Homo sapiens: one gene and its partners. The protein of the gene in region 1 interacts with the protein of each later gene in a pairwise test. Each region holds a gene or a part of one and is shown in the gene's direction. Other genes may lie near its edges. The genes, in order: PLXNB3, MAGI3 and SPOCK2.

Evidence for each region.
Region 2: the proteins of PLXNB3 (region 1) and MAGI3 interact in a two-hybrid assay, tested with the Homo sapiens proteins (one study listed by BioGRID and IntAct).
Region 3: the proteins of PLXNB3 (region 1) and SPOCK2 interact in a two-hybrid assay, tested with the Homo sapiens proteins (one study listed by BioGRID and IntAct).

Annotation. Positions count from the first base shown.
Region 1 is NC_000023.11:153,767,249-153,770,993, forward strand, and holds part of PLXNB3 (plexin-B3 isoform 1 precursor), read left to right. Parts: coding exon 1-665; intron 666-1,000; coding exon 1,001-1,180; intron 1,181-1,699; coding exon 1,700-1,828; intron 1,829-1,913; coding exon 1,914-2,014; intron 2,015-2,558; coding exon 2,559-2,691; intron 2,692-2,843; coding exon 2,844-3,000; intron 3,001-3,089; coding exon 3,090-3,198; intron 3,199-3,279; coding exon 3,280-3,394; intron 3,395-3,509; coding exon 3,510-3,635; intron 3,636-3,716; coding exon 3,717-3,745. UniProt on the Homo sapiens protein: Receptor for SEMA5A that plays a role in axon guidance, invasive growth and cell migration. Stimulates neurite outgrowth and mediates Ca(2+)/Mg(2+)-dependent cell aggregation.
Region 2 is NC_000001.11:113,680,370-113,684,114, forward strand, and holds part of MAGI3 (membrane-associated guanylate kinase, WW and PDZ domain-containing protein 3), read left to right. Parts: intron 1-828; coding exon 829-967; intron 968-1,814; coding exon of another isoform or gene 1,815-1,924; exon of another isoform or gene 1,925-2,527; coding exon 2,528-3,645; 3' UTR 3,646-3,745.
Region 3 is NC_000010.11:72,067,880-72,071,624, reverse strand, and holds part of SPOCK2 (testican-2 isoform 2 precursor), read left to right. Parts: intron 1-1,198; coding exon 1,199-1,313; intron 1,314-3,323; coding exon 3,324-3,438; intron 3,439-3,745. UniProt on the Homo sapiens protein: May participate in diverse steps of neurogenesis. Binds calcium.

The DNA of each region.
Region 1 (3,745 bases):
AGACACGGCGCCTTGGGGATGTGGCCGAGGTGCTGTACCAGGCTGAGGACCCTGGTGACGGGCAGTTTGTGGCTGCCAATACCCCGGGAGTGGCAACGGTGGGGCTGGTGGTGCCCTTGCCCGGCCGGGACCTCCTGCTTGTGGCCAGAGGCCTGGCGGGCAAGCTGTCGGCAGGGGTGCCACCCCTGGCCATCCGCCAGCTGGCCGGGTCTCAGCCCTTCTCCAGCGAGGGCCTGGGCCGCCTGGTGGTGGGCGACTTCTCCGACTACAACAACAGCTACGTCGGGGCCTTTGCCGACGCCCGCTCCGCCTACTTCGTGTTCCGCCGCCGCGGGGCCCGGGCCCAGGCTGAGTACCGCTCCTACGTGGCCCGCGTCTGCCTGGGGGACACCAACCTGTACTCCTACGTGGAGGTCCCCCTCGCCTGCCAGGGCCAGGGCCTCATCCAGGCCGCCTTCCTTGCCCCGGGCACCTTGCTAGGGGTGTTTGCCGCGGGCCCAAGGGGCACCCAGGCGGCGCTCTGTGCCTTCCCCATGGTGGAGCTGGGTGCCAGCATGGAGCAGGCCCGGAGACTCTGCTACACGGCGGGCGGCCGGGGCCCCAGCGGCGCAGAGGAAGCCACCGTGGAGTACGGCGTCACGTCGCGCTGCGTCACCCTGCCCCTTGTGAGTGGCATGCCCTTCCATCCCCCCTCTCTGTGGATGGCTGGCATCTTTCAGCACTGGACAGGGGTGCCTGCCCATGGGAAGTGCCAGCCAACCTCTCAGCCAGGGGTCAGCTGAGTCTCCAGGTCTCCTGCCTGCTCTCCACCCATTTCTTTCCACCTTTCTCCCTCTGGATGCTATGAGCTTGCCAGGTGCCCTGGCCCTTCGGCCCTGATTGCTGGGCCTTGGGGTCATCCCAGGGTGCCTGGCTCTCCTCCCGCTGGCAGCCTGGGTACCCCCCCTGACTGCCTCTCTGCTCTCTTCCGGGGGCTGATTCTCCACTTCCTGCCACGTAGGATTCCCCCGAGTCGTACCCCTGTGGCGACGAGCACACCCCCAGCCCCATTGCTGGCCGCCAGCCCCTGGAGGTCCAGCCTCTGCTGAAGCTCGGGCAGCCGGTCAGCGCCGTGGCAGCTCTCCAGGCAGATGGGCACATGATAGCCTTCCTGGGGGACACCCAGGGCCAGCTGTACAAGGTGAGGGCCCGGCCTTGCTGTCCGGCTGGGTGTGCCCCTGGCCACGGAGGCTCAGGAAAGCCCCCAGCAACTTCCACCTCTTAGCCCGCATCCCACGGTTGGGTCAGGGGACTTTGCCACACAGTGACTGCTGGCTGAGCACTGCCCCCTGCAGCCCGGCCTTCACCAGCTGGTGGTGGCTCACGGTGAAGGTGGCTGGGGTGGCTGGGTGAGGTGGGCAGGGTGTGGTGCCTCCTGGTGACCTTCCTGTCTCCCCATAGCTGCCCTCCCACCTGGCAGAACTGTCCCTGGTACACGGGGCCTCACCCAGGGTGCCGCTGCTGCCCCGGTGTCATGGTTCCCTGGAGAGTGTCCTAGGCCTGAGGGTGCTGAGTGGGGGAAGTGATGTGTCCTCCCTCGATGGCCCGGCAGGAAGGGGAACTGGCTCTAAAAAGGAGCCCCCACTAGGAGGAGGGCGTGTCCCTGGAACAGGCAACCTTTGGCCATCTGGCCCAGCCTCGTCCTTGTCCCCCCACTCAGGTCTTTCTCCACGGCTCCCAGGGCCAGGTTTACCACTCCCAGCAAGTGGGGCCTCCAGGCTCAGCCATCAGCCCAGACCTGCTGCTGGACAGCAGTGGCAGTCACCTCTATGTCCTGACTGCCCACCAGGTGAGGGCCATCCTGGGGCTGAAGGGGCCAGCACACGCGGCCCAAGTCTCGTGCCCATTGCCTCTCTGCTCTGCTGCCCCTCCAGGTGGACCGGATACCTGTGGCAGCCTGCCCCCAGTTCCCTGACTGTGCCAGCTGCCTCCAGGCCCAGGACCCGCTGTGTGGCTGGTGTGTCCTCCAGGGCAGGTGAGCACGGGGCCTGTGCCTAGGCTAGGGCCAACGGGTGGTGTGTGCCACGAGGCTGCCCCTGGAAGTAGCCCTAGGCGTGCCGGGAGGCCAACCCTGCCTGTTGGAGAGACTCAGGGCCACCACGGAGGTCACCCATCCTGCCCCATCTCACTGAGCCGTCAATCTGGTTGGCACCCCCCTTTTCCGACACCACCCGGCCTGTGGACTCCTCATCCCAGCAGCCCCAGCCAGGGTCCAGAACCCCACACAGCTGTCCTCCAGCCGGTGCTCCACACGGCAGCCCCTGGAATCCTTTAAGGCAGCCCTGAGTCACTGTGCGTCCCTCAGCCCAGCCGCACCTGCCTCTCAGGGCTGGAGCCCACGCCTTGGCCATGAGGCCCTGCCTGCTTGGCCCCTTTCTCTCTGGACACAGTCCCCTTCACGCCTCCTGCTCATTGCACCCCACTGCACTCCAGCTGGGCCGGCCTCCCCAGGCCCCTGTTGCCGGTCATCCTTGGAGTCTAGGACCCCCACGGTGACCTGATGGACCCCTGCCTGGCAGGTGTACCCGGAAGGGCCAGTGCGGGCGGGCAGGCCAGCTGAACCAGTGGCTGTGGAGTTATGAGGAGGACAGCCACTGCCTGCACATCCAGAGCCTGCTGCCGGGCCACCACCCCCGCCAGGAGCAGGGCCAGGTAAGCCGCCCACCACCACTGGGCCCTCTGGGCAGCATGACCACTGCCTGGAGCATGAACCCCGCCTGCCTCCCGTCCTCCTTCCTCTCCCATGGCCTCTGCTGCCCCCTCTCTCTGGCTACATCTCCCGGTTTCTCCCCGCTGCATCCCAGGTCACTTTGTCTGTCCCCCGGCTGCCCATCCTGGATGCAGATGAATACTTCCATTGTGCGTTCGGGGACTATGACAGCTTGGCTCATGTGGAAGGGCCCCACGTGGCCTGTGTCACCCCTCCCCAAGACCAGGTGCCACTTAACCCTCCAGGCACAGGTGAGTGGCCCATGGGGTAGGGGGCTGGGATGGAGGCTGGAGGGGTAATGAGCCACCTGACCTGTCCTGCCCCCACTGTCCCCTCCCAGACCACGTCACTGTGCCCCTGGCCCTGATGTTCGAGGACGTGACTGTGGCTGCCACCAACTTCTCCTTTTATGACTGCAGTGCCGTCCAGGCCTTGGAGGCGGCTGCCCCGTGAGTCCCTGGGCCTGCCTCCTGGGGTAGGGGTGGCGACCCCAGAGGGCACTCAGTTGAGCAGCCACCCTGCCCCTCTAGGTGTCGCGCTTGCGTGGGCAGCATCTGGCGGTGTCACTGGTGCCCGCAGAGTAGCCACTGCGTGTACGGAGAGCACTGCCCAGAGGGCGAGAGGACCATCTACAGCGCCCAGGAGGTGGGTGGGCCCGAACTTCGGGCAGAGACAGGGCTGTCCCTTCTCCACCCTTCCCAGACCCGCCCAGCAGTAGGCCCTTTGAGTTCTGAAGGGCTGAGGGCTCTTGTTTTCCCAGGTGGACATCCAGGTGCGTGGCCCAGGGGCTTGCCCACAGGTCGAAGGCCTGGCAGGTCCCCACCTGGTGCCTGTGGGCTGGGAGAGCCATTTGGCCCTACGCGTGCGGAACCTTCAACATTTCCGAGTGAGCCATCAGGAGGGAAGGGGACAGGGCAGTGAGGTCTGCCAACAGCGTGTCCACACTCCTGACAGCGTCCTTCCCCAGGGCCTGCCTGCCTCCTTCCACTGCTGGCT
Region 2 (3,745 bases), on another chromosome or scaffold:
TAAGAGGACAGATGGCAGCAACAGGAAGAGACAATGTCCAGGTTTACTCACGCATAAAAACCCTACACAGCAAGTGCCCAGGTTTACTTATGAAAATCCTACACAGGGCCGGGCGCGGTGGCTCACGCCTGTAATCCCAGCACTTTAGGAGGCTGAGGCGGGCGGATCACGAGGTCAGGAGATCGAGACCATCCTGGCTAACACGGTGAAACCCCATCTCTACTAAAAATACAAAAAATTAGCCGGGCGTGGTGGCGGGCGCCTGTAGTCCCAACTACTCGGGAGGCTGAGGTAGTAGAATGGCGTGAACCCAGGAGGCGGAGCTTGCAGTGAGCCGAGGTCTCGCCACTGCACTCCAGCCTGGGCGACAGAGCAAGACTCCGTCTCAAAAAGCAAAACAAAACAAACAAACAAAAAATCCTACACAGGAAAGTTTTATATGGCTATTAAAGATCTGGGCATCTTCAAATCAAGAACCAAATTCTAGAATTTGATTAACATTCTAAATTTGATTTCTATAAATTTAGAAAATTCCAAATCTGATTCTAGAATTTGATTCTTGATTTCAAGATGTCCAGATCTTAGTTAGTAGCCATATAAAACTTTCCTGTGTAGGATTTTTGTGAGTAAACCTGAACATTGCCACTTCCTGTTGTTTGTTGTCATCTGTCCTCTCATCAACTCTCACATGGCAGTACTGGGTACACGTTAGGTATTTTACAAACGAAAGAATCACTTAGCAAGGTTGAATGGCTCAAGAGCTGACAAAAGCAGAATTTACAAAGGATGCATAGTTTCATGTTGTTCCTGTGAATGTTCTCTGTCTAGGTTGGTGACCAGATTGTTGAAATCAATGGGGAACCTACACAAGGAATCACACATACTCGAGCAATTGAGCTCATTCAGGCTGGTGGAAATAAAGTTCTTCTTCTTTTGAGGCCAGGAACTGGCTTGATACCTGACCATGGTAAGTAAAGTAGCCCACTAGTAGCTGAAAAGTTGTATATTAGGGAGGGGACAGAAGAAAAAGGAATATATATTTGGAGAGGATAGATATTTTACTAGTTAATTCAGAGGTGAATGCTAGAACCATGAAAAGCTAGTTACATAGCAGAGTTATCATAAATAGTATTAGAAAACAAGTGACTTAGGCAGGACTTTCGTTGGAATGGAATGTATTTTAAATTTAATCAGAAAAAACATATAGTTGTTTTTGTAGAGAAATGTACCTATTAAAAAAGTGTATTAGAGGCAAACAATTTAAATACCATAAAAAATGTTTTAAATCTCTTCAAAATATCCCAGCTTTTTCTCTTACTTAGCTAATTACACATTACCAACCAATATTTTTATTTCTGTAAAGCAAGATAAGTTTATATTATAATGAATGCGCAGCATGAAAACTTAGGCTTTTCTGGTGACTCGGCAAAAACAAGTTGCTATCACCCTACCTGGAGACAGGGAGTTGGACCTGAGACCATTTCTGTCCTGTATTAATGTTAAACTTCCTGGGTTTCCATGGCATGTTTTGAAATATCATGGTATTTGAAAGTCACTGTTTTTTGAGTGCACTATTCTAGAAATAAAGGCAGTACCACACCCACGCAGTACTTGCCTCATCTAGCTCCCCACCTCCTGCCCTACCCCACCCCACCCCACCGCTTTTGAGGGATAAGTGTAGACATAACCTCCTACAGTACCCTTCCAGCTTATGATTCTCTGACTGTATTATCTTCCACCATCTGCTTGTAAATCATATGTTCCCAGTGACATCTTTGCTAACTGCACTGATTTTTTTTTTTTTTTTCACATAGTCCTAGGCTTTTTCTCTTCCCTCTTCAGGTTTGGCTCCTTCCGGTCTGTGCTCCTACGTGAAACCCGAGCAACATTAAGGCTTTCAGGGCTTTTCTTGGTCTTTCCTTAAAAAGACTTGGTAAATTTGCATGTCTTGTAAATCACTTTCTTCTTTTGTTTTCTTTTAAATTAAAAATGATGCTATTAAATACATCTATTTCTATCTTCTGCACTTTTCAGTCTTCTTTTGACATTAAATTTGACAGCTTAATGCAAGAGAATTATTACAAATGCCCATGAGCCTCATTCTGGTTACCACAGTTTGGTTTCCTTTATTAATTAGTGATTTTGCCATATCCTAAACTGTATCAATTCATAATAATTAGTGAGCTTCTTGGGCCACGTAATTTGGTTCAGCTTTATAACTTGTAAGTTCTAATTGGGCTTTACTAATAGAGAATTTACAGATCATATATTATCTCACTAATTATATGTAATTGGAAAAAATGAATATTATTTTGTGTATATAAACAACCCATCCTTCATGTATGAACAGATGTCTGTACACATCCGCCTTTATAGAGAGATATGTTGTAAACATATACAAACTGTATAAAATACTCAGGCTTTTTAAGCAGTTACGACAATTCAAATGGCTGTCAAAGTTCAAAACGTATTGTTCCTATTTGTAATTCTAAAATTTAATAATGTTCCATTCAAATCACTTTTTTAGGTGATTGGGATATTAATAATCCTTCGTCTTCAAATGTGATTTATGATGAACAGTCACCATTACCCCCATCTTCACATTTTGCTTCCATATTTGAAGAGTCTCACGTGCCAGTAATTGAAGAATCTTTGAGAGTTCAGATATGTGAAAAGGCAGAAGAATTAAAGGACATTGTGCCTGAAAAGAAAAGCACTTTAAATGAAAATCAGCCTGAGATAAAGCATCAGTCTCTTCTCCAGAAAAATGTGAGTAAGAGGGATCCACCCAGCAGTCATGGGCACAGTAACAAGAAAAATCTATTAAAAGTAGAAAATGGTGTTACACGAAGAGGTAGATCGGTTAGTCCCAAAAAGCCAGCCAGTCAACATTCAGAGGAACATTTGGATAAGATTCCTAGTCCTCTAAAAAATAACCCCAAAAGAAGACCCAGAGATCAATCCCTCAGCCCCAGCAAAGGGGAAAATAAAAGTTGTCAGGTCAGCACCAGGGCAGGCTCTGGACAAGATCAGTGCAGAAAAAGCAGAGGTCGGTCGGCCAGCCCAAAAAAGCAGCAAAAAATTGAAGGAAGCAAAGCTCCATCAAATGCTGAGGCCAAATTATTAGAGGGTAAGAGTCGAAGAATAGCAGGCTATACGGGCAGTAATGCTGAGCAGATCCCAGATGGGAAGGAAAAATCAGACGTCATCAGGAAAGATGCAAAGCAGAATCAGTTGGAAAAAAGCAGAACAAGGTCTCCAGAGAAAAAAATCAAAAGAATGGTTGAGAAATCTCTTCCATCCAAAATGACTAATAAGACTACAAGTAAAGAAGTATCTGAAAATGAAAAAGGAAAGAAAGTAACCACAGGAGAAACAAGTTCTAGTAACGATAAAATAGGAGAAAATGTCCAGCTATCAGAAAAGAGGCTGAAGCAAGAACCTGAAGAGAAGGTAGTTTCAAACAAAACAGAAGATCACAAAGGGAAAGAACTAGAGGCAGCTGACAAAAACAAAGAGACTGGAAGGTTCAAACCGGAAAGCAGTTCTCCAGTTAAGAAAACACTGATAACTCCAGGGCCCTGGAAGGTTCCAAGTGGAAATAAAGTCACAGGCACTATTGGTATGGCTGAGAAACGGCAGTAACCTTTAGTATAAAACAAAGAAAAACAAGTTGTAATCTTTTCTTACAGCAGCATTTTTCCAGAAAAAGCCTTTTTTTTTTTTTCAGATATTCTGAAACAGA
Region 3 (3,745 bases), on another chromosome or scaffold:
TTAGACCATATAATTTGAGGTTCCTTTCAGCTCTGACATGCAGTGACTTCATGAAATATTTAAGGTGGTAGCTTGTGAGAGGTTGTAGCTTGCAGAGGAGAAAGGAGTGAGGGACATTTAAGGAAGCCTTAGCTCCAGCTGGGTGCAGTGGCTCCTGCCTGTAATCCCAGCACTTTGGGAAGCCAAGGCGGGTGGATCACCTAAGGTCAGGAGTTTGAGACCAGCCTGACCAATGTGGTGAAACCCCATCTCTACTGAAAATACAAAATTAGCTGGGCATGGTCGCTTGTGCCTGTAGTCCCAGATACTCGTGTGGCTGAGACAGGAGAATTGCTTGAACCTGGGAGGCGGAGGTTGCAGTGAGCCGAGATCACGCCACTGCACTCCAGCCTGGGTGACAGAGTGAGACTCCGTCTCAAAAAAAAAAAACACAACAAAACAAACAAAAAAAGGAAGTCTTAGCTCCAGCCCAAGGACAAGGCTCTGCCTGGCTCCAAGACCCTGGAAAAGGTTCCAGTTCCCTCCCTTCTTTCCTGAATCATAGAAGATGAAAGATGGGGTTGCAGTCTTAGAAGGCTGCAGGGGCATGGCCGGTAATGTAATGCATGAAGAGTGCTTGGTCACGGGCCACTCTGTGGAGCACAGGTGTGGTGGAAAGCAGGCAGCTGCTTCTTGGCCCTGGTCTATTACAGCTATGTAGGAATGCAGGTCCAGGACTCCCATGCTTCCATTTTTCAAAGACAGGCCAAGAATCCAGGTATTTATGTGAACTCTCCCATTTGGTAAATGTTAGTGCATAAATAACTCAATTAAAAAAAAAAACACTTGGTGGCCAAGTATGGCCCAGAGGTCATCAGTTTGCAACCTCAGATTTGGTCTGACCCCCTAAGTGAAGTGTGACCCCCTTTTACCTCTGGCCTTCAGACCTGGAGTTGCTACCTGAAGGCCCCATGGGACTCAGTGACTCCTAGAAGAAGAGAAGCTGGGGGAATTTATGCCCTGCTCAGTTGGTTCCACCCTTCTGAGCTGGAGGAGGGTCTGGCAGCAGTGTGGGGAGGGTGGGCAGGGGCAGGAAGGGGCTGATCTGCTGAAGATTGCTGCTGCCTTCCTGTTGGAACAGGTCTGCTCAGCCCTCCCTTCCCCTGCTCCTTCCTCATTGTCACTTCCACCCTGGTGTGCCCCCCACCCTCTCCTGTAGGATCAAGCAGCCGACCGTGAAACTCCATGGAAACAAAGACTCCATCTGCAAGCCCTGCCACATGGCCCAGCTTGCCTCTGTCTGCGGCTCAGATGGCCACACTTACAGCTCTGTGGTGAGGAGCCCAGGCCCCAGGTAGGGTGGGGGTGGAGTCACCTGAGGCCACAGGAAGCAGAAAGGATGACCCAGCTGGGGCCTCCGGAGGGGTTTCCAGGACTGAGGTGGGGCCAGATGGCAAGGTCAGTGTGTTCAATGCAGCCAGCCATACTGGGGCCACCTGCAGCCCTGGCTGGAACTACCTGAGAGTTGGAGCCAGACCCTGTCTGTCCCTGACCTCGGACAGGTGCAGGTGGGGAGTGGGGCCTGGAAGAGACACTATGGTCAGGTAACTGCAAGTCAAAGGAACTGAGGGAAGACCTCAGCCAAGTGTGGAGGGCTGTGGAAGAAGGAGCTCTGGCATCCAATTGTTAGTGGGGGAAGAAAGGAGGATTTCCACAGGGAGGCGCCAGTGTTCACCAGTGAGCAGGGGCCTTCTGGGGCAGCAGGAAATAATCCTCCATAAGAAGGTGATGGAAGAAGGAACCGATTGGGAGAATGAATTTGCACCTTATGTGGATTTTTATGAGGATTTCAGGAGACAATATTTGAGAAAGCATTTAAAAAATTTTAGGCTGGTCACGGTGGCTCACGCCTGCAATCCCAGCACTTTGAGAGGCCGAGACGGGTGGATTGCTTGAATCCGGGAGTTTGAGACCAGCCTGGGTAACATAGTGAGACCCTGTCTCTACAAAAAATACAAAAATTAGCTGGGTGCAGTGGCGTGTGCCTGTGATTCCAGCTATCTGAGAGGCTGAGGGGGATGCCAGGAGTTCGAGGCTGTAGTGAGCCATGATTGTACCACTGCACTCCAGCCTGGGTGACAGAGTGAGACCTTGTCTCCAAAAAAAAAAAAAAAAAAGTAACATAGAAATGCAGGTGCTGATAATGAATGTTTTTACTGGCAACAAGGAGTCGGGAATTGCTTGGTTTGGGAGGGCACTGACAGCTGGCTTGGGGTGGGTGCCAGGGCTGAGGGGCCTTCTTGGAGTGAGATGCAGATTTCAGTCACCCGCTGTGGGTGATGATTGACATTGCTGTGGGGATGAGGTCATCCAGGGAGAAGAAAGGGAGGAGAGAGAGAATGAGCAAGAGGCCAGGGCAGAGGCTGCATTTAGGAGGTGAGAGGGGTGCAGGGGAGCTGGCAGAGCTGGCAGAGAGGAGGAGGAGAAGAAGAGGAGCTAGTGTCCCACAACCCAAGGCCAGGGCGAGGTCTGGGCAGGACGCTGCAGTGCGGTCCGGTCCAGGGGTCACGCTGTCCTTTAGGGAGGTGGAGGTCAGCAGGAAGTCTGGCTTTCATCCCGGCTCATGGCCTTGGGCAAGTCACTGGGCCTCTGTGCGCCTTGCTGTTCTCTGCTGAGCAGGAGAAACCCAAGCCTCCCAAGTGAGATAATGTTGTCGAGCGCTGTGATGACCCGCTTCCCATTAGCAGCCGCCCCATGAGAAGAAAGAGATATGACCAGGAGAAAAGGCCCTGGTCAGAACCTGGCTTTAGCAGGCAGCTGTGGCAGAAGCAGTTCTTAGCGAAGGCCGAGGAATTGTTAGATGCTCCATAGGCGGTGCTGTGTCCTATCAGGAGAACTGAGAAAAGTCCACTGGGGTGACTGGGGGGAGATCATTGAGGGAAGGGCTGATGGCTGATTACAGAGGGACCAAGGAACAGGCCATGAGAGCCAGGGGGGCAACAGACAGCTAACACAGGGGAAGGGCGACAGGGGCAGGGGAGGGGTGACAGGGGCAGGGGAGGGGAGACAGGTGTCCTGGGAGGGACAAATCCTTAGAGAGGGCCGAGCAGGCTCATGGGAGCCTGCATGGCTAGGACCAGCTCTGAGCCCTGCTTCCCGGGCCCTGCTTCTCTCCACCGTGCACCTCAGTCTGCAGAGGAACCAAGAGGACCCTTCAGGCTGTTCATGGGCACTCCATGGGGGGAGGCAGATGTGGCTGCCATGAGAGGCTTGAGGGTGTCCCCAGCTGTGGGGACCCCTGGGGTAAGCCCTCAGTCCCCTGTTCCACCTTTCCCCATGTGCAGTGTAAGCTGGAGCAACAGGCGTGCCTGAGCAGCAAGCAGCTGGCGGTGCGATGCGAGGGCCCCTGCCCCTGCCCCACGGAGCAGGCTGCCACCTCCACCGCCGATGGCAAACCAGGTGAGGACAGTGCTGGGCCACCAGGCTAGGGGTGCTGAAGGGCCACCTGGCACCTCCTTCAGGGCTCTAGGGTGGTAGAAGAGGTGTGCAGAGCAAGAGGGAAGTGGCAAAAATGCAGAAAGCTTGAGGGAGCTGTGAGGTCAGAGGCCCAGATTAACACAGAGCAGGAGGCGTGGGCTCAGCCCTCGTTTCTCCCCTGGGTGCCTGGAAGGTGGGCAGAGGGAGGGACTCAGCCACAAGGAACCTGGGCTGTGTGTTTTTCATGCCAGGAAGGAGTGGGTGGTGGGAAATGGGAGAGGACTCGAGA